7 linked regions of the Homo sapiens genome follow. The protein of the gene in region 1 interacts with the protein of each later gene in a pairwise test. Each region holds a gene or a part of one and is shown in the gene's direction. Other genes may lie near its edges.

Region 1 (2,783 bases):
GACCCAAGGTCTTTGGATTGCTAATAATAATACTGTTCTGTGTCAAGCCTGCTTGGCCACAGACCAACTCTGGTATCTTATTTTCAGGTGAATTTTACCGGGAAGGCCGAGATGGGAGGACCGTTTTCCTATGTGTAGTAAGGACACTGTTCTCTCTGTGTGTGCTCTCTACTGGAGGAAAGGGATTCAAAGTCATACTCCATTGATTGGGGCCTGGTCCTGCCTTAGATCTCAGCTTTTGACTTATAGGTTCCCTGGCTTTGGATGTCTTGAGATTTATTTGAAGAATGTATTATTATTATGTGTGTATTTGAAGAATGTATTATTTGATATGTGACAGAAGTGCTGGAATTTCTAAAAGAGAACATTAAGCCACTAAAAACGTTACCAAGCTCCAGCACTTATGTGATGGGTTTGAAAAAACAGAAAGTGGTATGACGCTGTGGGAGGATGAAAATGACAGTGGCAGGGACTGAGAGCTGACAAGCCTTGGCAGCACTTAGGTCGGAAGGGGGAGGGGGGCACCCCAAACAGGACAGTGTAACTCTGCACTCTTCTACTGAGGCTTTAAAAAAAAAAAAACTGACTATTTCCATATTTGCTGTTTGGTAGCTTCTTCTGCACGGTACCTGAGATCCTGGTGCACAACATAGTGATCTTCATGCGGTGCGTCTCTCTTCCCTATCCCGATGGCCTGTCCGGCCATGTGAGCCTACCACCTTTGCTCAGGAGGCCCCTGTGTGACCACAGGGCAGAGGCACCTAGCCCGAGGGGACACCCTGTGCCTCACAGGCACAGATACAGTAGACCCTTGGTGTTCTCTAAACACAGTGTCCACATGCCCTTCACAAATCACCAGTCACCCTGAGCAGTCAAACATTTTCTCCATAAAATGGGTCTAGTTTAACTAAACACTTGATCCCCTCAGAATCCTAATGAGACAGTCATGAACAGAAAAGCTTTCTCAAGATGTTAAGTACTGGGCATTTGACCAGACTTCCTCTCTAGCCACACAAATTACCACATGTCATGGACCTTTAGGGTTGTTTTCTGGAAGCATGGCTGTTAAATTTGCAAGTGACAAGACTCTGCTGCAGACATGAAATATGAGGGGTTAGAGCAGAGTTTCTCAGCCTTGGCACTACGAACATTTTGGGCCAGACCTTTGTTGTAGGGGGCTGTTCTGTGCATTATAGGATGTTTAACAGTATTCCTGGCATCTGCCCACTAGATCCCAGTAGTAAACCCTCCATCCCTTAGTTGTGACAACCCAGAATGTCTTCAGGCATTGCCAGAAGTCTCCTGTGGGGTAAAATCATTCTCGATTGAGAAGCCTTGTTTGGAAGGCCACCTCCTGGCACAGTATCTCTGTGAAAGTGGAAAGATCTTCTGGCCTCCTGGTTACATAACCATGAGGATATGTGCCTGGGGCCCGTGGGTATTGTTCTCTGAACTTGCAAAAAATTTCCTGGGACATTTTTCTGGCTTATTTCATCCCCCAAACATAATTAATTCTTCTTGGTTTTCTTTTCCCTAGAACTTCAGTGAAGATTTCATACATTGGCCTCATGACCCAGAGCTCCTTGGAGACACATCACTATGTGGATTGTGGAGGAAATTCCACAGCTATTTAACAACTGCTATTGGTTCTTCCACACAGCGCCTGTAGAAGAGAGCACAGCATATGTTCCCAAGGCCTGAGTTCTGGACCTACCCCCACGTGGTGTAAGCAGAGGAGGAATTGGTTCACTTAACTCCCAGCAAACATCCTCCTGCCACTTAGGAGGAAACACCTCCCTATGGTACCATTTATGTTTCTCAGAACCAGCAGAATCAGTGCCTAGCCTGTGCCCAGCAAATAGTTGGCACTCAATAAAGATTTGCAGAATTTAATACAGATCTTTTCAGCTGTTCTTAGGGCATTATAAATGGAAATCATAACGTGGTTCTAGGTTATCAAACCATGGAGTGATGTGGAGCTAGGATTGTGAGTGACCTGCAGGCCATTATCAGTGCCTCATCTGTGCAGAAGTGGCAGCAGAGAGGGACCATCCAAATACCTAAGAGAAAACAGACCTAGTCAGGATATGAATTTGTTTCAGCTGTTCCCAAAGGCCTGGGAGCTTTTTGAAAAGAAAGAAAAAAGTGTGTTGGCTTTTTTTTTTTTTAGAAAGTTAGAATTGTTTTTACCAAGAGTCTATGTGGGGCTTGATTCACCCTTCATCCATTGGCTGGAACATGGATTGGGGATTTGATAGAAAAATAAACCCTGCTTTTGATTCATCTGTGTCTCCTCTGATTGCCTGGGTGTTTTGTAGGGATCTCTGGGGGAACCGTAGAATAGTTCCCTTCCAAGTGGGTCAGGATGGAATAGGAGGAAAGAGACTGCACCCTGATTGTACTCCCGTTCCCATGAGTTCCTGTCACAGCAAGCAGCCTCATTTTCTTCCATCTGCCTCTTGCGGCAGGGGGCTACCCTGTTCCCTTCCAGGACAGAGCACTCAGTGCCCCATGGAGGTTGGAATTCAGTCTTGAATAAGACATCCTGGTTTGAGGTTGTAAGTTTCTTGGGTCATCTCCACCTGCTCTGCCACCAGAGGTTAGGCTACAGCCCCAGGATGGCAGAGAATCTAGTTAAGAAGCTTGAGTAGTCAGGTGTTAGAAGTCAGCTCTTCCCATAGCACTGGGACCTCAGGAAACCCTAACAACAACAGGTGGTGGCTGGGGTTGTATATTAGTTTTTGTCTCCATTCCCATAGCTTGGTTTTCAATATTTGCTTAAT
Region 2 (3,500 bases), on another chromosome or scaffold:
CTTTTTTAGGCCAAGGATGATCGCTTGGGATTATTTTGTTTTTTGCCAGCCTGGCGTGATGCTGTGCACACCGTCAGTTCTTAATAAACATTGACTTGCCAGATGAAACTTCTTCCTGGTCATTCTACCATATGGAGCTATAATACATTTTTCTGAGAGATAATGGCCCATCAGCCATACTGTTTTAGATGGGAGGGTAAGAAAGATTTGTATGTGAATGGCATTTCATAAGTGCTAGTCAAATTACTGAAGAGAAGTCTCTGAGTCTTTCAAACGCCAGCATCTTCTGACACACTGGGCATTAGCTGCATGCAGAAAACTAGTTAATTCAGGCACTAGGAGTAAAGCACATGATGAAATTAAAAGACCTGACGCCTATCTGTGAGGAGCTCCCCTGTTAGCAGGGGCAGTTGAAAACACGTATGTGCAAAATGATTCCAAATCTGAGCAGCAAAGAAACAGTGGCATAACCTTTTTTTTTTTTTTGGACAATTGAAACTGGAATTTAGGTGGTAAAAACAGCACTAGTGGAGCAGGGCACAATGACACACGCCTGTGATCCCAGCACTTTGGGAGACCAAGGCAGTGGATTGTTCAGGAGTTCACCATCCTGGGTGACATGGTGAGACATTGTCTCTACAAAAAAATATAAAAATTAGCCGGGCGTGGTGGCGTGAGCCTGTGGTCCCAACTACTCTCTGGAGCCTGAGGTGAGAAGATCACTTAAGCCTGGTAGGTCAAGGCTGCTCTCTATCCTGGGTGACAGAGTGAGAGCCTGTCTCAAAAAAAAAAAAAACACGAAACAAACCCCAGCACTACTTGGCAGGAGAGCTTGTGATTGGCAGAAAAGAGAAGGGAACGCTCTCACAGCTGGCGAGGACTTGGCTCCTGCCTATAGTCCACTTTCAGAGCAAAAGTAGAGCCACCAGGATGGGCGTTGGTGTTTCCCTCTACAGTGTGGGTAACAGGGCAGGCCCTGCGCTCAGTACCCACATTCCCAGCTCCACTGGACTTCCAGCTCTGTGATCACTGGACACACTTCCAGCTGTGTGATCTTGGACAAGTTATTCTACCTCTCTGGGCATTTTTTCATCTATAAAATGGGGAGGCCTGTGGACAGATTCCTTGAGCACAGGAGTTGGAGACCAGCCTGAGCAACATGGTGAAACCCTGTCTCTACCAAAAATACAAAAAAGAGAAAGAAAGAAAGAAAAAAGCTGGGCATGGTAGCATGCACCTATGGTCCCAGCTACTCAGAAGGCTGAGGTGGGAGAATTGTTTGAGTCCAGGAGGCTAAGGTTGCAGTGAGCTGAGATCGCGCCACTGCACTCCACCCTGGGTGACAGAGGGAAACCCTGTCTCAAAAAAAAAGAAAATGCAGAAGCACAGCCTCCTCTATCCTTAGTTAACTCTCAGTCTACTTGGAGAGGTAAACTATAGATAAAATAGCTAAAGGACACGAGCAAACATTTAACACTGCATTAAGGGGAAGCCATGGAAAGGAACATTTGGAACCAGCTAGGTTAGTGAGTAGTCAGAGAAAGCCTTTAGGAGACACCCAATGAGGTCTTGAAGGAATAGCTTTTCCTAAGAGGAGATCATGATACAGAGACAAGTATCGTTGGAATGAACGATACTTGTGGAGTGGAACTCATTTGGAGAGTGACAGATCTGAGGAAGTTCCTCTTCTGTGTGGACAGAGGCCACCCCAGGCCTTTGCTTTGCTTTTTCTTATCCATTAGGGTCCGCTGATTCTTTCACCAGCCCCTCCGGCTGTTCTGGCTTGGCCTTGGCCAAAAGACAGAGCAGTGAGACCCCAGGAACTGACTGATAAGCAAAGTTAATCAAGTGCCTGTGTTTCTTTCACAGGACTCTGACACCACCATACCAATGGACGAATCACTGCAGTTTAACTCCTCCCTCCAGAAAGTTCACAACGGCATGGATGACCTCATTTTAGATGGGCACAATATTTTAGATGGACTGAGGACCCAGAGACTGACCTTGAAGGTGGGGTCCCTGCTGGGGGACAGAGAGAAGGCCTCTTGTTTTAGCCTCATCCAACAGTTTAGTAACTGTGTTTATATTTTGATTACGTGTCCTCAAATTGTGATATTTTGATGACAAGACAGAGCCCTTGAGTTTGGGATCCTTTCTGTTGGAGTTGAGTTATTGTGAGCCTGAAAGTACCCAGTTCCTTTGCCAGTGCTTGAAACAAACCATGAAGTGGCCTCTCTTAGGATCCAGGTCTTTTCCCATTTACTGAACTTATCATGAAAGTGAGTGCTACTACGAGGGGTCCAATCACAGGCTGAGAAATTGTGTTACAGAATCTACTCTTGGAAGAATGAAGACGTGGCTGTCCTTTGGTACCTCGCTTTAAGGTGGCTTTCCCTTAGGACCCCTACTGTGGACTGCCTTATAACTAAAACCTTTTGTATTTTAGTAACTGAATCCCCACTGTGCAGTGTTAGGGCTGCCTGGTTGTTTGCAGTAGATTAGAGCTTTAGAAGCTTCTAGAGCTTCTAAAGCCCGTGCTGGTGATCCCAGCGACTCTTCACTCCCTAGCCTTAGGTATTCCTAGAAGCCCTGACCAGTTGGCACTGCTGAGACTCCAGCCCCTGGGAGTGGTTTACAGAAACATTACACAGACTCTGATGTCAGTCATGATGTTTCAGCCTCTGCCCTTTTCCTGTATCAACCCTGATGGATAATAGGGCGTGGGTTCTGTCTGTTATCAGGGTGTGGTCCCCTGTGAATGAAGCACTCCCAGCCACTGAGCTGTGAGAAACAGTCACTCGGAAGTGTGAGCTTTATCTTAGTTTTTGTTGGATCATGTTGAGTCTGTCAGCTCCACAGGACTTCAGTACGTTTCTGAACAGTCCCTGCCATCTCTACGGGGGAGAGGGTCAGGCAAGCTGCAAGTGACACTCACCTCCTGCTGACAGTTGCAGTGTCTCAGATGGCCTGGAAGGGTGGTCTCCAGCAGCCTGCTGGGCGCTCCCCTTTCATGAGAGCCACCTGCAGTGACCTGAACTGATACATGTTGATTAGTCTGCCCTTTCTTTAGAAAACTGCTACTCTCCTTTTCATATCTCAGAAAAACAGTAGAGGCCTTTTAGGACCAAACTCCATGTCACACTGATGAAGAGCCAGTGGGGGTTAGAGCGTCCTGTTAAGGCACATGCTAACTTCCCACTCAAGTCTGGCAGCGCTGGGGCATCAGCACACCTCTTGCCACCCACACTGATACCAGAGGGGAAGGCTGTGAGGTGGCTGGGGGTTGAGACTTGAGGTTTCTAACTTTCCTCTGCACACCTGTGGCTACCTGGTGTTTGTCTCTTGATTCCCTCCACCTGCCTCACACCCTGCCTCCGTCGGGATTTTCCACCTACACCATTCAAAAGGAACATAGGAGAGGGCATGAAGGGGCTAGGCTGAAGCACTCTGATGACTGGGGCCAATTTGTGGCTGAAAATGAATACATTTTTTGAAATTTA
Region 3 (2,370 bases), on another chromosome or scaffold:
CCTCGCCCTCCCGTGTGCGTGGCTTTCTCCTAGCTCTTGGGCACATTCTCACGTCCCCCCCATAACCCGTCACCTTCATTTCTGCTGGTGCTTTTGGGAGTCAGACCTACAGACTGCATCAGCATCACCAGGCAGTTTGCTTTCTGGAGCCTTTTCCAGAACTGTCAAGCAGACTCTGGGGGCAAGGCCTCGGGATCCTCATTTTAAATACAAGGTTTAAGCCCTTCGTTTCAGGATGGATTTCTGCAGCCACTACTTCCCAGCTACTGTCCTTCGTCCTGCCCGGGTTTTCAGAGCCTGATGCTGCCACTGGCGACCCACACCCCCTCAGCTGCTTTTCAGAACCACACGATAAAATCTGCCCCGAAAGCTGCTGCAGCACTGTCTGCGCTCACAGTGCCCACCACACCACCGCCCACAGGCCAGGCCAGCCAGGCTTCCGATTCTGCCCTTTCCTGGAGACCCATCCTCCTCCCTCCGGGAGTGATGCCCGCTGGTCAGCTGGAGCGAGCCTCTCTATTGCCGAAAAGCCTTTTCTGACACTCCTGCATCTTTAGTTTGGGACATCTCTCCCACTACCAAACTTAAACCACATGAGGGCAGGGGCTTCATTTTTAAGCAGTTGGCTTTGGTGAGGCTGGTGGTGATGAACTAGCAACACCATCTTGCCCTGGTAGGTGACTTCCCCCAGCACTGAGTTGGAACAAAGCAGAAGCTTTCTGTGTGGAAACAGCATTCGGTTTGGTGATCCTTCTATGTAAGAATACGATCTGATGTTTTCTAAGTTAATTAATACAAAATACATATTGATAAAACACTAGATAAAAGATCACAGATAGATTCATTACAAAATTTTTATAATGGGTATAAAATCACCAGTCCCCTTGCATAAGCTCTAACCACAGTGAGCTACCCTGTTTCAGCTGTAACACAGTCTCCTGTGAATCACAAGATACATTAACTACTGATAATTTTTCTGTGAAGGATCTATATTGGAAGGCGTCTGACAACCTCCACCAGCACCTTTTGATGAAGAACTGGAGTCTGACTTGGTTCGTTAGTGGATTACTTCTGAGCTTGCAACATAGCTCACTGAAGAGCTGTTAGATCCTGGGGTGGCCACGTCACTTGTGTTTATTTGTTCTGTAAATGCTGCGTTCCTAATTTAGTAAAATAAAAGAATAGACACTAAAATCATGTTGATCTATAATTACACCTATGGGATCAATAAGCATGTCAGACTGATTAATGTCTACTGTGAAAATTTGGTAGTAAATTTTCATTTGATATTAGATATAAATATCTGAATATAAATAATTTTAATATACTAGTCATGATGTGTGTTGTATTTTAAAAATTATCTGCAACCTTAATTCAGCTGAAGTACTTTATATTTCAAAAGAATGAATAACATTGATAATAAAATCGCTACTTTAAGGGGTTTGTCCAAAATAAATATTGTGGCCTTATATATCACACTATTGTAGAAAGTATTATTTAATTTAAATGGATGCAGGTTGTCTACTAAAGAAAGATTATATATAACTATGCTAATTGTTCATAATCAACAGAAACCAAGATAGAGCTACAAACTCAGCTGTACAGTTCGTACACTAAACTCTTCTTGCTTTTGCATTATAAGGAATTAAGTCTCCGATTATTAGGTGATCACCCTGGATGATCAGTTTTCTGCTGAAGGCACCTACTCAGTATCTTTTCCTCTTTATCACTCTGCATTGGTGAATTTAATCCTCTCCTTTGTGTTCAACTTTTGTGTGCTTTTAAAATCAGCTTTATTCTAAGCAAATCTGTGTCTACTTTAAAAAACTGGAAATGGAAAAAAAAATAAATCTTTGCCAAATCCTTCAGATTACTGTATTTACATATGGTTTAAAATCAGACGTCATGATAGCTTCTTAATGAAACCAGGACTGGTCCCTATTTTGACATTATCTTTCCTACAGCAAACTTTTTAGAAAGGCTGCCTGCCGCCTTGATGTTTCACCTTTCCACGCTTAATTCGGGTGTTAAATCTAACGTTTTCATTTGTAAAAATCTTTGTTGATGCTACCTTGGAAGCAGTCATCTCTCAGTCTTACATTTGGAGAATGTGGATGGCATGACATCAGAATTCCTTTATATAATTTAACTTCAGAATAGTCTGAGATCATCGAAGCACGATGGTCAAGGGAATTCCGTTTTTGTTTTAGAGCAAATATGTTTGCTGTTTGTCTTTCATCACAAACATCAGTGGAGTTTCAGCACCTTACAGAGCTCAGTGAACCCCCTGGTCACCATCAAAGTTAGCACACAACAAAGCCAACCACGTGTCCCCCTCACAGATGACAATGGCTGAACTCTGAGTGAAAC
Region 4 (3,500 bases), on another chromosome or scaffold:
TCCAACTAAGTCAGTAGCAAATTATTTAGACCCTATTTCAAAAACTGGTCAATCCTGTGAGGGCCCAGCTTTCTGCATTGTTCTCATTGCTAGTTCTTTGCCATCGTGGGCTTGAGACCTTATCTGCCCTGAAGAGAATCACCCTGAAGGTCTGTATCAGGCACCAGGACCCTCGTAGACTTTTAGGCTCAGCTCAGGCCTTGAGTTACATTTTTTTATAGCACTTAATGATTTTTCTTTATTGCTTTCGAGCTCTGCTGTGTACTAAATTCTTCTTGTTCTATTTTATTGAACATTTATGTGTTTGCTGTTGTATGAGGCACTTCCCTTGTTAACTTCCATCCAGCATATTGACCAGAGGTTACAGTCATCTTTCTAAAACTCCATATGATCCTTTCACTCCCTCACCTGATGTTTGTGGACTTGTTAGCACTGTGTCATTTATTCCTCCCACAGATACTTGTTGTGCATAATCTCTGTGCTAAGAACTGGGGTTACCACAGTGAGAAAGATATCAGGTCTCTGCCTTCGTGGAGTTTACTATTCTAGTTGGACAGACAGAAAATAAACTTGTAAACAAATAAATGAAAATATTAACTAGTTTTGTGAAAAATGCTCTGAAGGAAATAGAGTGATGGAGAGTCAGTGTTTGAGGGGTTACTTTAGAGAAGACACTCGGGGAAGACCTCACTGAAGAGTGACATTTAAGCAGAAATCAGAAGGCTGAGGAAAGCCAGTCCTACAAATAGTAGCAGGAGTGCTTGGGGTTGAGGGCTAGTTCCAGGCAGTGGAAACAGCAAGTACAAAGACCCAGAGATGGGGAAACCCCGGGCGTGTTAGAGTGACCGAGATGGCGCCCATGTGGCCCTAATGAGGGCAGACTGCTCCCCAGAGAAGTTAGGCATGCAGGTGGGCCCCAGGTCCCATCTCCCCTCACTCTGTCATCTTTTCACTCTGATTCTTTCCTAAATGTGCCTGTGCAGAGTATTTCCTTTGTAAAGCCCCTCTCACTATTGCAGTTCCCACTGCACTTCGCTTTTACCATTAATCAGAATGTAATATGGACACTTGTTTTCAGGACAATGTTCTCCAATAGACCTTGAGCTTCTGTCAGAAGATATCTTATTCACCTTTGGCATCCCCAGCTTGTAGCGCAGTGCTTTACATGGTGGGAACATCATAAATGTTGATTCAATAAACGTATTTTTTTTACCAGTTCATGCTTAGACCCTCCTTTCCAATAACTTTATAACTTCTCATAGCTAATATTTTCGTGGTATTTAAACCATAAGGGTAAAGAAAACCAGCAACCTAGAGGAATGTGTTTGCTTAAGACTTGTCTCCAATGCTGAAAAGGAAAACCAGGAGAGGTAGTGTGGTGTGCTGTTCCTCTGCTGTGAGTTGAATGGTGGTCCCCAAAAATATATGTCCGCATCCTCACCCCTGGAATCTGTGACCATGACCTTGTTTGACAAAAGGGTCTTTGCAGATTTAATTAAGTTAAGCATCTCAAGATAATACTAGATTATTTGTACAGACCCTAAATCCAATGACAAGTACCGTTATAAGAGACAGAAAATGTGAAGACAGACACAGGAGAATGCCATGGGAAGATGGAGGCAGAGACTGGAGTTGTGAGTTAAAAGCCAGTGAATGGTGCCTGGAGCTACCAGAAGATGGAAGAGGCAGGGAAAGATTCTCCCCTAGAGCACTGATCCCCAATCTTTTTGGTACCAGGGACTGGTTTCATGGAAGACAGTTTTTCCACAGGGGGATGCAGGGGGGTGGTTTCCGGATGAAACTGTTCCACCTCAGATCTTCAGGCATTAGATTCTCATAAGGAGCCTGCAACCTAGATGCTTCGCACGTGCAGTCCACACTAGGGTTCGTGCTCCTGTGAGAACCTAATGCCGCTGCCACTGATAGGACAGGAGGCGAAGCTCAGGTGGTAAGGCTGGCTTGCCTGCTGCTCACCTCCTCCTGTGCGGCCCAGTTCCTAAAAGGCCATGGACCAGTACCAGTCCATGGCCCAGGGGTTGGGGACCCCTGCCCTAGAGCCTTTGGAGGGAGCACAGCCCTGCTGACACCTTTATTTTGGATTGCTGGCCTGTGAGAAAATAAATTTCTATTTTGAGCTGCTAATTAGGAAACTAATAGATACCCCATCGCGCTTATATCTCACTTACCCATCCTGTAACATGGCTATAGTAATACCTTTCTCAGAAGCTTCGCTCCGGGATTCAATGAGATATGTTTGTACGGCACTTAGCACACAGTGAATGTTCAAAAATAGTGATGGCTGTTCCTCTTCTTTAAGGACTGGGAGTTTTCATCCTCTTGAATAAGAACTCGACAACAGAGTGGGAACTTTCTGTCTTGTGATCCATTGCCTGGTGAGTCACAGCTCACACCATGGATTTAACCTGAGAGCTTCAACTTCTGCTTTGGCCCTGGAGTTCCCATGCCCTGGTGTCTTCTACCAGTTCTTAGGTAGGGTTTTATATTCAGAGAGGGTTCAGCTTTCTCCCGTGGGCTGGGGGAAGAGGTCAAAGTAGAACTCAGGTACCAAATTTGAAAGGAAACACTCAGAAAAAACTTCTGAGCGCAGAGCGGAAAACACCCTCTCAGTCCCCACCAAAGAGAAAGGCTTTGGGTTCTAAATTTCCAGTTTCCATTAAGGGACTCTGGGACTGGACATTTCTGAAAATTAATGACCTGTACTGAGTAATCCTCCTAACACACTGATCATCAAAAAATAACCTGTAATGAGTTTAGGCTTTCTGTATTTGTCTGAATGCTTTCACGGGAGTGTGTTGCACTGGAGCACAGAGGACACTCGATCGTGCGGCGCGCAGGGCGGGGGGCCGCCGCTGCCTCCCCGCGGGATGGCTGGCACTGTGCTCGGAGTCGGTGCGGGCGTGTTCATCTTAGCCCTGCTCTGGGTGGCAGTGCTGCTGCTGTGTGTGCTGCTGTCCAGAGCCTCCGGGGCGGCGAGGTAAGGCATTCTGTCCAACTGGGAGTCCTAGGTAAAGCAATTAGAGGCAAAATCGCTGATGCTCACTAAACATTTAGAATTTAAGAGATCAGTTTTGTAATTACTGGCAGTTTGAATGAGTTGCATTTTAACCTCTTTTTATAAACACTAACTGTGTTATTTATGCTCTGGAGCAGAGATGGGAGGAGAAGGAAGTAGTGTTCTTGAGTTCTAACTGTGGCAAGAAACTCTGCTTTCACTGCTTATTGAGTTTCTTGAGGCTGTATGTGTATGTGTTTATGAATTGTTCAGATTTATGGCAGAGGCTTGGTCCAGTACCCGAGGCTCTAGCCCTGGACCCAGGAAAACGAAAGCAACATTTGATGAGTTGGGCCTGCTTTCTATATCAGGCATTGCCTTCAGAACAGGGTTAGGCCATAAACCGACTCTGAAAACACTAGAGTTGCACTCTGGCAAGACAGTGTTAGTATGAAGCAGAGAGTTGTAGAATTTTCTAAAGTATTCT
Region 5 (3,493 bases), on another chromosome or scaffold:
GCTTGGAAAAACTCATTTTTTTATTTACTTTTTGTTTTTCTTTCTTTTTTTTTTTTGATTTTGTTTTTGAGACAGTCTCTTGTCGCCCAGGCTGTAGTGCAGTGGTGCAATCTCGGCTCACTGCAACCTCTGCCTCTCGGGTTCAAGCAATTCTCCTGCCTCAGCATCCCAAATAGCTGGGATTACAGGTGCTTGCCACAACGCCTGGCTAATTTTTATATTTTGTTATAGATGGTGTTTCACCATGTTGGCCAGGCTGGTCTCAAACTCCTGACCTCAAGCGATCTGCATGCCTCAGCCTCCCAAAGTGCTGGGATTACAGGTGTGAACCACCACGCCTGGCCTGGAAAAACTCTTATTTTATTATGAAACAGTAAGAATTTAGTTTGGATAAGAACATGGTAAGGAGAGGATGGGAAGCATTTTGTAGTATCATTTGCAGCTGGGTAACATTGCTTCTGGTAAAAATAAGGAAAAACAAGTGAGCATCTGGCTCTGAAATCAGTCTGTGTTCCCATTCTAAATTATAGAAGTACAAGATTGGTGAGTAGCAACCACTGGTTTAGAGATCGTGCGTGCAGGCCAGGTGAATCTTTTATGTATAACAAGGGTGGGTTGAGTCAAATAGAGTCAGGTATAAGTGGAAACAGTTTCATTACCTTTGGTAGGGAGGCCATAACTAATAATTTTTAATGACCAGTCGTGAGCTGCGATTTTAATGGGATTAAACTTGAATATCTCCAAATATGTATTAATTACATTCAATTAATCATTATGTGCTAGCCATTATTTTAAAGACTACATGTATTAAGTCACTCTCTTACCAATAGTGAAGTAGGCACTATTACTGGCTCTATTTTATTGATGGGGACACAAGTGTAGGGAGATTAAAGGCCTTGCCTAAAGCCAGGCACTCTACCCCAGGTCCTACACGCCTCACCCATCTGCCAGGTGCCTGGGCTTTCTACTCTCCTACTCACAATTAGTCCCAGCCTCATTCTGGCATCAGGTGGCAGGTATATGACTGTGGGCAGATGGTTGGTTACGATTATGATAATTCATTATTACGACATCTGGGTGATTGTTTTTTAAATTTTGCTGATCTCATCTTGTAGGCCTTAGAAATTAAAGTGCTGTACAAGTCTGCCTCAGTTTATGAAATAGTTGGATCAGAGAGGTTGTAAACAAATTGAATAGAAAGTGAAGTTCAAATGGCCAGAATGCCTTTTTTTTTTTTTAATTTTTTTTTGAGATGGAGTCTCGCTCTGTCACCCAGGCCGGAGTGCAGTGGCTCGATCTCGGCTCACTGCAACCTCAGCCTCCAGAGTTGCTAGGATTACAGGCGTGAGCCACCACACCCAGCTAATTTTTGTATTTTTAGTAGAGACGAGGTTTCACCATGTTGGCCAGGCTGGTCTCAAACTCCTGACCTCAGGTGATCCACCCGCCTTGACCTCCCAAAGTGCTGGGATTATAGGCATGAGCCACCGGGCCTGGCCCAGAATGCCTCTTAAATTTTGCAGTCAGGCCGGGTGCAGTGGCTCACACCTGTAATCCCAGCACTTTGGGAGGCTGAAGCGAGGATCGCTTGTGCCCAGGAGTTCGAAACCAGCCTGGGCAATGTGGCAAAACCCCGTCTCTACAGAAAATTAGCTGGGCTTGGTGGCGCATACCTGTAGTCCCAGCTACTGGGGAAGCTGAGGTGACAGAATCATCTGAGCCCGGGATGTTGAGGCTGCAGTGGGCCGAGATCAAATCACCACACTCCACCAGCCTGGGCAACAGAGACTGTCTCAAAAAAAATAATAATAATTTTATAGTCAATCTTTTAAAGCAGGTAGTGTCATCCAGTATTTTTAAAAATCTAAAAAGCAAAAAAGGGATCTTAAGAAAACATCTAGTCCAAGTTGCTCATTTTACAGATGAGGAAGTAGAACCCTGGAGAGGGACAGTGACTTAGCCTTTGTGTTTCTTATCAATTCAATCCTATTCAAACCACATTCCCATCCAGAAAAGTGCTTAGAAGGAAGCGAAGGGCATTGCTATGAATTTCAATTTCAAATTAAGTACAAATTTGGATATCCTTTGGTCAATAAATTGGTTATCTAGCCAAAGCCTTTCTGAAATTAATAATATGCTAACAGGATATTTGTTTCTGGATGTTTGCTTAAAGTGCTCTTGCAGCAGTGGGGCTTCTATTTCACAATAGCGAGGCTTTATCTTTTGATTAAAAATTAACAGGAAAAATATTCTTGGATTTTCCATTGTAAGTAAGATAAATTCTTACCCTGGAGTTGCCTTTATTAATCATAATATCAAGACTTATTTGTCTTTGAAGGCCTGTGTGTCAGGGCAGCGCCACATCTAGGAGGTTAAATGTGACAAACGTTTAGTAGTCCACATAGAGCCAAGAGCACTAGGCTTTGGGCTCCTATAAAAGCCCAAGATGGGAAGCCTTAAACTCTGCTTCTTTTCTCTGCCTGTAGCCAGGTCAGCATGGATCCGCATCCTTTTTATTTGACAAGGTAATTACAAGCGTGGGGCCCAAGCTAGAACTGAGACGCTAAAACCCTGCATAACCAAGAAGCTACTAGGTAGTTTGTAGTTTGGGGCAGAGTTTGTTCTTCCACTAAAATCCTGTCTCCTAAAATAAACCAAAAATTAGAATTAGGGGAGTTAAGGAACTTGTTTGTCATATTGGAATTAAAGTGTCCAAAATTACATCGCCACAGAGGTTAGATTTACTTCCCCTTTCACTCCCACCCCCACCCCGCAAAAAGAAGAGGGAAATTCAATTCATTTCTGCATTTGAGGGAATCTGGCCTTTGGAGGAGTTTGGTGTGTAGTTGCCATTACAAAAGGGAAAGTGTCAGGATGGTTTTCATGTGTATTTGTTTTTTTAAACAAAGAATGATATTGTTGACAGAAATGTCACATTTGTTCATTCAGCGAACACCCTGAGTGCCTACCAAGTGCCAGATACTTATTGTTGCTCCTGACAGTGGCCAACACACCTGGATGTGTTATCTTGGAATTATGAACAGATTCTGGGTAACACAAAGAAGGGGCTGGAAGAGTTGAGAAAATTTCAGAGAAGGGAACATTTGAGTTAGGGATAGTAAGTTTTTATTAAATGACCACCTAGGCTGTGTCACAAAAGCCAGCTGGACATGCCATCTGCTGCCGGGGTAGTGGGGGGTGGCTAATTAATGACAGGCTCCTCCAGTGTATTTTCAAATGAGCTAGCGCCGAGCCTGTTGAGGGCAAGTGGCTGTAATTCATCATGATCGTTTTCTTTTTCAGTTTAGAAACCTGCTGAAGTGGTATGCTAAGGAGTTCAAAGACCCACTGCTACAGGAGCCCCCAGCCTGGTTTAAGTCCTTTCTGTTTTGCGAGCTTGTGTTTCAGCTGCCTTTCTTTCCCATTGCAACGTATGCCTTCCTCAAAGGTTGGTAAATGGTGGGAAAATCCCATTTTTACTCAGAAATCAGGT
Region 6 (3,500 bases), 3.3 Mb from region 1:
GCCCTTGAAAGACGGACAAGGTTCATACAGGCAAAGGGGCGCAGCAGGTATCTTAGAGAAACGTAGAATACCTTTTTCGTGTGTACCTGCTCTAGATAAAGGTAGAATACCTCATACCATGTGTGAAGCTACAGAGACGATTTACCCTGGAGGATGTTCAGGAAGCGGGTGGGCAGAGGACCTCCAGAATAATCCTGCCCACAAGGGAAAAAAGGTGATACCTTGGCAGCTAGCTGAGGGATTAGAACCTTGGCAAGGGGGAGCTGTTTACATTTTTTAAATTTTATTATTATTATTTTTGAGACCAAGTCTTGCTGTGTCACCCAGGCTGGAGTACAGTGGCTTAATTTCGGTTCACTGCAACCTCCGCCCCCTGGGTTCAAGCAATTCTCCCACCTTAGTCTCCCTAGTAGCTGGAATTACAGGCGTGCGCTACCACGCCTGGCTAATTTGTATACTTTTAGTGGAGACAGGGTTTCGCCATGTTGGCCAGGCTGGTCTCAAACTCCTGGCCTCAAGTGATCTGCCCTTCTCGGCCTCCCAAAGTGCTGGGATTACAGGCTCATGCCATTTTTTCTTTTTTAAAATTTATGGTAAAATAAACATAGTACAGGTATTACCATTTTAGCCATTTTTTCGCAGACAATTCAGTGGTAGAGTAGTCCCCGCTTATCCACAGGGGATTCATTCCAAAAACCCCAGTGGATGCCTGAAATCTCAGATAGTACTGAACCCCATCTATACTGTGTTTTTTCCTGTACATACATACTTATGATAAAGCTTAACTTGTAAATTAGGCACAGTAAGAGATTAACAATAATAATAAAATAGAACAACTATAACAATATACTGTAATAAGAGTTATGTGAAAATGGTCTCTCTCACTTAAAATGTCTTATTTACTATAGATCTTAGAAACCTCAGTACACAGTTCTTTTTTTTTTTTTCTTAAGTCAAGAACTTTCACCTTTTCACTTAAAGGAAGCACTTCTTGTTGGCATGTCCAAATTGCATCACTATTCTTGTGCTTTGGGGCCACTGTCATGTAAAATAAGGGTTACTTGAACACAAGCGCTGTGGTACTCTACTAAGCGTTTATAGCATGGACACAAAAGGATGATTCACTTTCCAGGCAGGATGGAGCAGGGTGTGAGATTTCATCACGCTACTCAGAACGGTACATAATTTAAAATGTATGAATTGTTCCTTTCTGGAATTTTCTTTTTCTGTTAAATTTCTATTTAATGTTTTCGGACTGCAGTTGACCACGGGTAACTGAAACCTAGGAAAGCAAAACCGCAGATAAGAGGGGACTACTGTTGTTTTTTTTTTTTGAGACGGAGTCTCGCTCTGTCACCCAGGCTGGAGTGCAGTAGCGCCATCTCAGCTCACTGCAAGCTCCGCCTCATGGGTTCACGCCATTCTCCTGTCTTAGCTTCCCGAGTAGCTGGGACTACAGGCGCCCACCACCACGCCCGGCTAATTTTTTGTATTTTTAGTAGAGACGGGGTTTCACCGTGTTAGCCAGGATGGTCTTGATCTCCTGACCTCGTGATCCGCCCACCTCGGCCTCCCAAAGTGCTGGGATTACAGGCCAGTGCCTGGCCTGGGGGGACTACTGTATTAAGTAATTCATGTTCCTCACCACCATCCATCTCCAGAACTTTACCTTCCCAAACCGAAACTTGACACCCATTAAACACTGATTCCCCATTTCCCTGCAAACACCGTTCTATTTTCTGTCTATGTAAATTTGACTGCTCTAGGTACTTCATGTAAGTAGAATCATACAATAGACCTTTTGTGTCTGGCTAACTTCACTTAGCATAATATTCTCAAAGTTCATCCATATTGTAGCATGTCACAATTTCCTACTTTTTCAAGGCTGAATAATATTGTTGTATGTGTATATTACATTTTGTTTATCCATTCATCTATGATGGACAGTTGAGTTGCTTCCACCTTTTGGCTATTGTGACTGATGCTGCCATAAACATGGGTGTACAAATATCTTCTTGAGACCCTGCTTTCAGTTGTTTGGGATGTATGCTCAGAAGTGGAATTGCTATATCATGTGGTAATTCTGTGTTTGATTTTTTTGAGGATCCACCATATAGGTTTGCACAGCAGCTGCACCATTTTATATTCCTACCAGCAATGCATAAAGGTTTCAGTTTCTCTACAACCTTGCCAACACTTGTTACTTTCTGTTTAATGGTAGTCATCATATTGTGTGTGAAGTGGTATCTCATTGTGGTTTTGATTTGCATTTCCCTAGTGATAGTGATGTGGAGCATCTTTTCATGTACTTATTGACCATTTGTATATCTTTGGAGAAATGTCTATTCAAGTCTTGTCCCATTTTTTAGTTGATTTGTTTTGTTCTTGTTCAGTTGTATATTTATATCCTTTAAAAATTTTTTTTAAAAAATTGATCGTTGAATCAGTCCTCTCTCTCTTTCTCTTTTTTTTTTTTTTTTTCTGGCGATGGAGTCTTGCTCTGTCACCCAGGCTGGATTGCAGTGGCACCATCTCGGCTCACTGCAACCTCCACCTCCCGGGTTCAAGCAATTCTCCTGCCTCAACCTCCTGAGTAGCTGGGATTACAGGCACACGCTGCCACACCCGGCTAATTTTTTGTATTTTAGTAGAGACGGGGTTTCACCATGTTGCCCAGGCTGGTCTCAAACTCCTGAGCTCAGGCAATCCGCCTGCCTTGGCCTCCCAAAGTACTAGGATTACAGGCATGAGCCACTGTGCCTGACCTTTTTTTTTTTTTTTTTTTTTTAAGAGATGGGATCTTACTCTGTTGCCCAGGCTGGAGTGCAGTGGCACAATCCTGGCTCACTACAGACCCAAACATCTGGGCTTGAGGGATCCTCCCACCTCAGACTCCTGAGCAGCTGGGACTGCAGGCGTGCACCATCACGCCCAGCTAATTTTAAAATTTTTTGTAGAGATAGGGTTTTGCTATGTTGCTCAGGCAACTCTCCCGGCCTGAAGCCATGCTCCTTCCTCTGCCCCTGAGTTGTTGAGATTATAGGCGCAAGCCACCTCACCTGGCTGCATTCTTGATCCAGCGAGTGACATGAGTGAAGTAGTGATTTAGGACAGTCTCCTATCCACTGGGTCCAAGCAAGTGTAAGTTCAGAGACAGCAATAGACAAAAGAATAGAAATCACAGATAGGAAGAAAGCTTATACTTTAAATGATGGGATCACTAAAGGCCAGCTCTTCTCTTCTACCCCTGTCTTGCATTTCTCTTCCCCCACCTTCCCACCTATTCCTCCCTCACAGTCTATAAAGACTTCCTAGAGAAGATATCCTCCAGGAACCTTGAAAGGAAGGGCCACATTATGACTCCTGAGCCCTGGGCACTTCTGTCTTTGTGGGCTCCTCCTTCACTTAAAAAAATATTAAAAATCATATTTTACAACTGCATCAGTGTAAGGAAGAATATAATATAATATAATTAATATTTATAATTAGTAATTGAATGG
Region 7 (3,500 bases), on another chromosome or scaffold:
TTCACATTCTTTTCTCTGCGTGGAATGCATTTCTTCCCCTTTGTACCTGACTACATTTTATCTATCTTCAAAGCTCTTTCCTGGTTCTAGACCACCCTCCCCCTACTTTATCTTTCCACTTCATCATTCCTTGCCTCTTTTAGCTTAGAATGCTTATTACTTTCATATACTTATCTGTTTTATCTCTTTTATAAAAGACTAGAAGTGCCTTGAGGGCAGAATATGTAATTCAATTTTTGTATCTTCGAAAGCATAGCATCTTACACAGAACCATGCCAGAAAGTATTTACTGAATAAATATATTAATTTACTGTAACCAATAGCTCTTTGGTTCCTTTGGTTCTAAGGGGTTTATTCTTACTTCTTTAGGAACTTTTGCAGAGTCTCCATAAACCATTGGTACATTTTCAGAAACATTTAATTTTGTTATCAACATGCCATCCTTGGGTTCAAGAAGACTAAAGAAAAGACTTTATAGGAGAAGGCAATAATAACAAAAGCAAAACAAAAACTGACCAGATGACACTGCTTTGGATTCAGCAAAATTATTGTTTTTCTACACTGCCTCTTATTTGTTATTGTTACAAACATTCTACACCAAATATTATAGTACCTAGAATGGTGCCAAATTAAGCATTTTTGGATAATAGTGGATCTAAAATCTGTTTTACTGAAGTAAAAAAAATAACAAATAGTTAATACATTAAAATGTGATTAAATATCTAGTTCAGTTTGTTAAAATGAGAAATTATTAAGAAGTGTCACCTTCTTATGTTGTGGGCAGATGGAGTATTCTCTTGATAACTTCTCAAGGAACAAGCCACAGAACCTGGGAAGTGGGTGGGGGCGGAAGTGGGGGAATCTCTAGAATTTCTTCCCCACAGTGATTTGGCACAACGCCAGCTGTCCTTCAGCAAAGGTGTACTGTGTTCTTGTTAAAGGAGACTTATGCTTTTTAAAGGCTTTTATGCCTTTAAATGTATAGACGAATTAGATAGATTTTTAAATCGTGAATTTTTTTTTCTTTACTGATATAACACTTGGAAGCAATATTGAATAGTGACATTTAATTTTCTGTTGTCATATTACAATATCAAGGAAATTGATTGAGAGCAGGCAGCTTGGGCACCAGAGAAGTTTAAGAAAATGTTATATAAGCACTTTCTGCTGAACTTGGGGAATAAATACTTTTTTGTGATATGTAGATTCTTGTGTTTTTATAACTGTTTAGGGAAGATGTTCTGCTATAATGGCTGAATATAAGTTGCAGAGATTTAAACCCGCCCTTATATTAATGTTCCACCTCATTAACTTAATTGTTAGGGCGTTTACACTTCAGTGATTTAAATAAAATACTCTAAATGTGGTTCTGTTGTCTTTCCCTCTGTCTCCTGTTTGAGGTCTAGATGATTATGTATTTAGTTATGTGTTTTCATGTAGACCCTGTTGTTAATTCTATTAAGCGTAAGATGATGATGAAGGGAAGCTATTGTATAACTTTTGTGCTGCTGCAGCCCTGGAAGATAAGGGAATGTATTTATGAAACTAAAATGGTCACTTATTCAGCTGGTGTTTTGTCATTTTTACCTTCCAGTGTTATTCAGAGGACCAGGAACTTCATAGCTATAAGACTCCATTCTGTTTTGGAGTTCAGATTGCTGATTATATATGAGCTTTCACATGTATCCAGTGATATTTATAGCCCTAGAACCCAGATAAGGCAAAGTTTTGCTTAAAAGTAAGCTATGTTTGTACTTTAAAATGTTTCCTAAGCATTTTCAGAAAAAGTAGGATTATGCAATGAATTTCCAAGCAAAGTCACCTTTACAAATACTTTCACCTACCTGCAAATAGTAGACATATTTATGCAGTAAGGTTTTTTCTAAATGATTTACTGCCGGTTGTGAGCATCCCTTAGCACTGTCTATCCCAAATGCAAGTTACATGTCTTTGTTAAAAACATAGAGAAAGGCCAGATGCAATGTCTCATGCCTGTAATACCAGCACTTTGGGAGGCCAAGGTCAGAGGATCACTTGAGGCCGGGAGTTCAAGACCAGCTTGGGCAACATAGTGAGACTCTGTCTCTATAAACAATTCAAGAAAAAATTAGCCAGGCATGGTGGCACGTGCCTGTAATCGTAGATAGTCGGGAATCTGAGGCACGAGGGTCGCTTGAGCCCTTGAGTTTGAGGCTTGTAGCGAGCTGTGATTGTGACCCTGTCTCAAAAAAAAAGGAAAAAGAGAAAAATAAGTTAATTTTTCAGGGAAATGAAGCTTTTATGTTGTCAAGCATTTTTCATTTTATAACAGTATTTAATTGTGAATATATGGTGTTAAATAATTCTATGAAGTATCTGCTTGACCCATTTAAGTTGAGCAGTGAATTTCTGTTTTACCTAAGTTCATCTTTGTGAGGTATTGGTGTTCATTTCTAACTATTTCTTTTATTTTCCAGCTCACCAGCGACTGGAACCAGCAACTCTGTCAGGGATTGTAGGATTTATCCTTAGTCTTTTATGTGGAGCTCTGAATTTAATTCGAGGCTTTCATGCTATAGAAAGTCTCCTGCAGGTACTGTGCTATTTTTGCAATTTCAGGTGACTGTGCCTCTTCATTCTACTGGTTACATAATTGATTTGAATTGGATTGGGTATTAGTATAATTTACAGTGCATACTCAAAATCTATGTTTTTTTATATCTGCTTTAGCCTCCTTCTAAAAACACTGGTTGGCTTCTTTGATTCCATTGGCACATGTTTATCATCTGCTCTTTAGGAGGCACTATTTATAGGCACCCTGGGGACCCCAAGATGTGTGTGACATAGGCCTTGCAGTCTCATAACTGAAAGTTGAACTGGGGAGGCAAGAAAGTAATTGCCAAATACACAGAGTTGGGAAGGGGGAGAGGTCAGTATAATCAGGATTGGAGAAGGAAGGTTTTGTGGAGGAGAGTTGAACTGGTCCTGGAAAGATCTGATCAGACAGAGAGCAGTGGAAGAATGAAGAGGGCACACGTGGGCTGTGTTTATTCCACTTCTGTGTATTCCCTACTTAGTTCATCTGCTTCTTTTTCTTTTTTTGTTAGTGGCTTCTTAAAACTTGAGCTTCCTAGAAAACCACAAATTTATTCAGATATTGCTAACTATTACATTTTCAAGTGGAGTTCCTTTCAGAAGCTATAGCTATCAGAATATACTAATTTTTTCTCTTATGCTTTTTGTAAACTTTTTGAAATTTTTTTTTAAGTTTAGCACATTTGAGACTGCACAGCTTTCCTTTCCCTTATTTCTATTCACTTTCTCTGAAGAACTCTTGACACTCTCACATTATGAATCAGTCCTCTTTTTTTGGTCAGCATTAAGTGCAGAATACCATTTGTAAAAATCCACTGAGCACACTTTATATTCTGTTTTTAAATTGCTGTTAGTTTGGGGAACCCTCAGAGGGTATCTTTCTGCATCTGTTTAGCCATGTAAAGCCAACAGCAGATGACATCACA

The links.
Region 2: the proteins of TMEM106C (region 1) and GOSR2 interact in binary tests that used the Homo sapiens proteins (3 or more experiments, as listed by UniProt).
Region 3: the proteins of TMEM106C (region 1) and BNIP3 interact in binary tests that used the Homo sapiens proteins (3 or more experiments, as listed by UniProt).
Region 4: the proteins of TMEM106C (region 1) and TMEM218 interact in binary tests that used the Homo sapiens proteins (3 or more experiments, as listed by UniProt).
Region 5: the proteins of TMEM106C (region 1) and TMEM97 interact in binary tests that used the Homo sapiens proteins (3 or more experiments, as listed by UniProt).
Region 6: the proteins of TMEM106C (region 1) and SMAGP interact in binary tests that used the Homo sapiens proteins (3 or more experiments, as listed by UniProt).
Region 7: the proteins of TMEM106C (region 1) and SEC22A interact in binary tests that used the Homo sapiens proteins (3 or more experiments, as listed by UniProt).

The regions. Positions count from the first base shown.
Region 1 is NC_000012.12:47,966,596-47,969,378, forward strand, and holds the end of TMEM106C (transmembrane protein 106C), read left to right. Parts: intron 1-87; coding exon 88-137; intron 138-612; coding exon 613-666; intron 667-1,537; coding exon 1,538-1,634; 3' UTR 1,635-2,283; downstream 2,284-2,783.
Region 2 is NC_000017.11:46,933,160-46,936,659, forward strand, and holds part of GOSR2 (Golgi SNAP receptor complex member 2), read left to right. Parts: intron 1-1,869; coding exon 1,870-2,010; coding exon of another isoform or gene 2,011-2,121; exon of another isoform or gene 2,122-3,500. UniProt on the Homo sapiens protein: Involved in transport of proteins from the cis/medial-Golgi to the trans-Golgi network.
Region 3 is NC_000010.11:131,967,184-131,969,553, reverse strand, and holds the end of BNIP3 (BCL2/adenovirus E1B 19 kDa protein-interacting protein 3), read left to right. Parts: intron 1-984; coding exon 985-1,030; 3' UTR 1,031-1,870; downstream 1,871-2,370. UniProt on the Homo sapiens protein: Apoptosis-inducing protein that can overcome BCL2 suppression. May play a role in repartitioning calcium between the two major intracellular calcium stores in association with BCL2.
Region 4 is NC_000011.10:125,101,627-125,105,126, reverse strand, and holds part of TMEM218 (transmembrane protein 218), read left to right. Parts: intron 1-2,317; 5' UTR 2,318-2,393; exon of another isoform or gene 2,394-2,461; coding exon of another isoform or gene 2,462-2,490; intron 2,491-2,775; exon of another isoform or gene 2,776-2,809; coding exon of another isoform or gene 2,810-2,885; coding exon 2,886-2,995; intron 2,996-3,500. UniProt on the Homo sapiens protein: May be involved in ciliary biogenesis or function.
Region 5 is NC_000017.11:28,322,200-28,325,692, forward strand, and holds part of TMEM97 (sigma intracellular receptor 2), read left to right. Parts: intron 1-3,303; coding exon 3,304-3,448; intron 3,449-3,493. UniProt on the Homo sapiens protein: Sigma-2 receptor which contributes to ameliorate dysfunctional cellular processes and slow degenerative progression by regulating cell functions including cholesterol biosynthesis/trafficking, membrane trafficking, autophagy, lipid membrane-bound protein trafficking, and receptor stabilization at the cell surface.
Region 6 is NC_000012.12:51,263,916-51,267,415, reverse strand, and holds part of SMAGP (small cell adhesion glycoprotein), read left to right. Parts: intron 1-3,500. UniProt on the Homo sapiens protein: May play a role in epithelial cell-cell contacts. May play a role in tumor invasiveness and metastasis formation.
Region 7 is NC_000003.12:123,243,443-123,246,942, forward strand, and holds part of SEC22A (vesicle-trafficking protein SEC22a), read left to right. Parts: intron 1-2,456; coding exon 2,457-2,572; intron 2,573-3,500. UniProt on the Homo sapiens protein: May be involved in vesicle transport between the ER and the Golgi complex.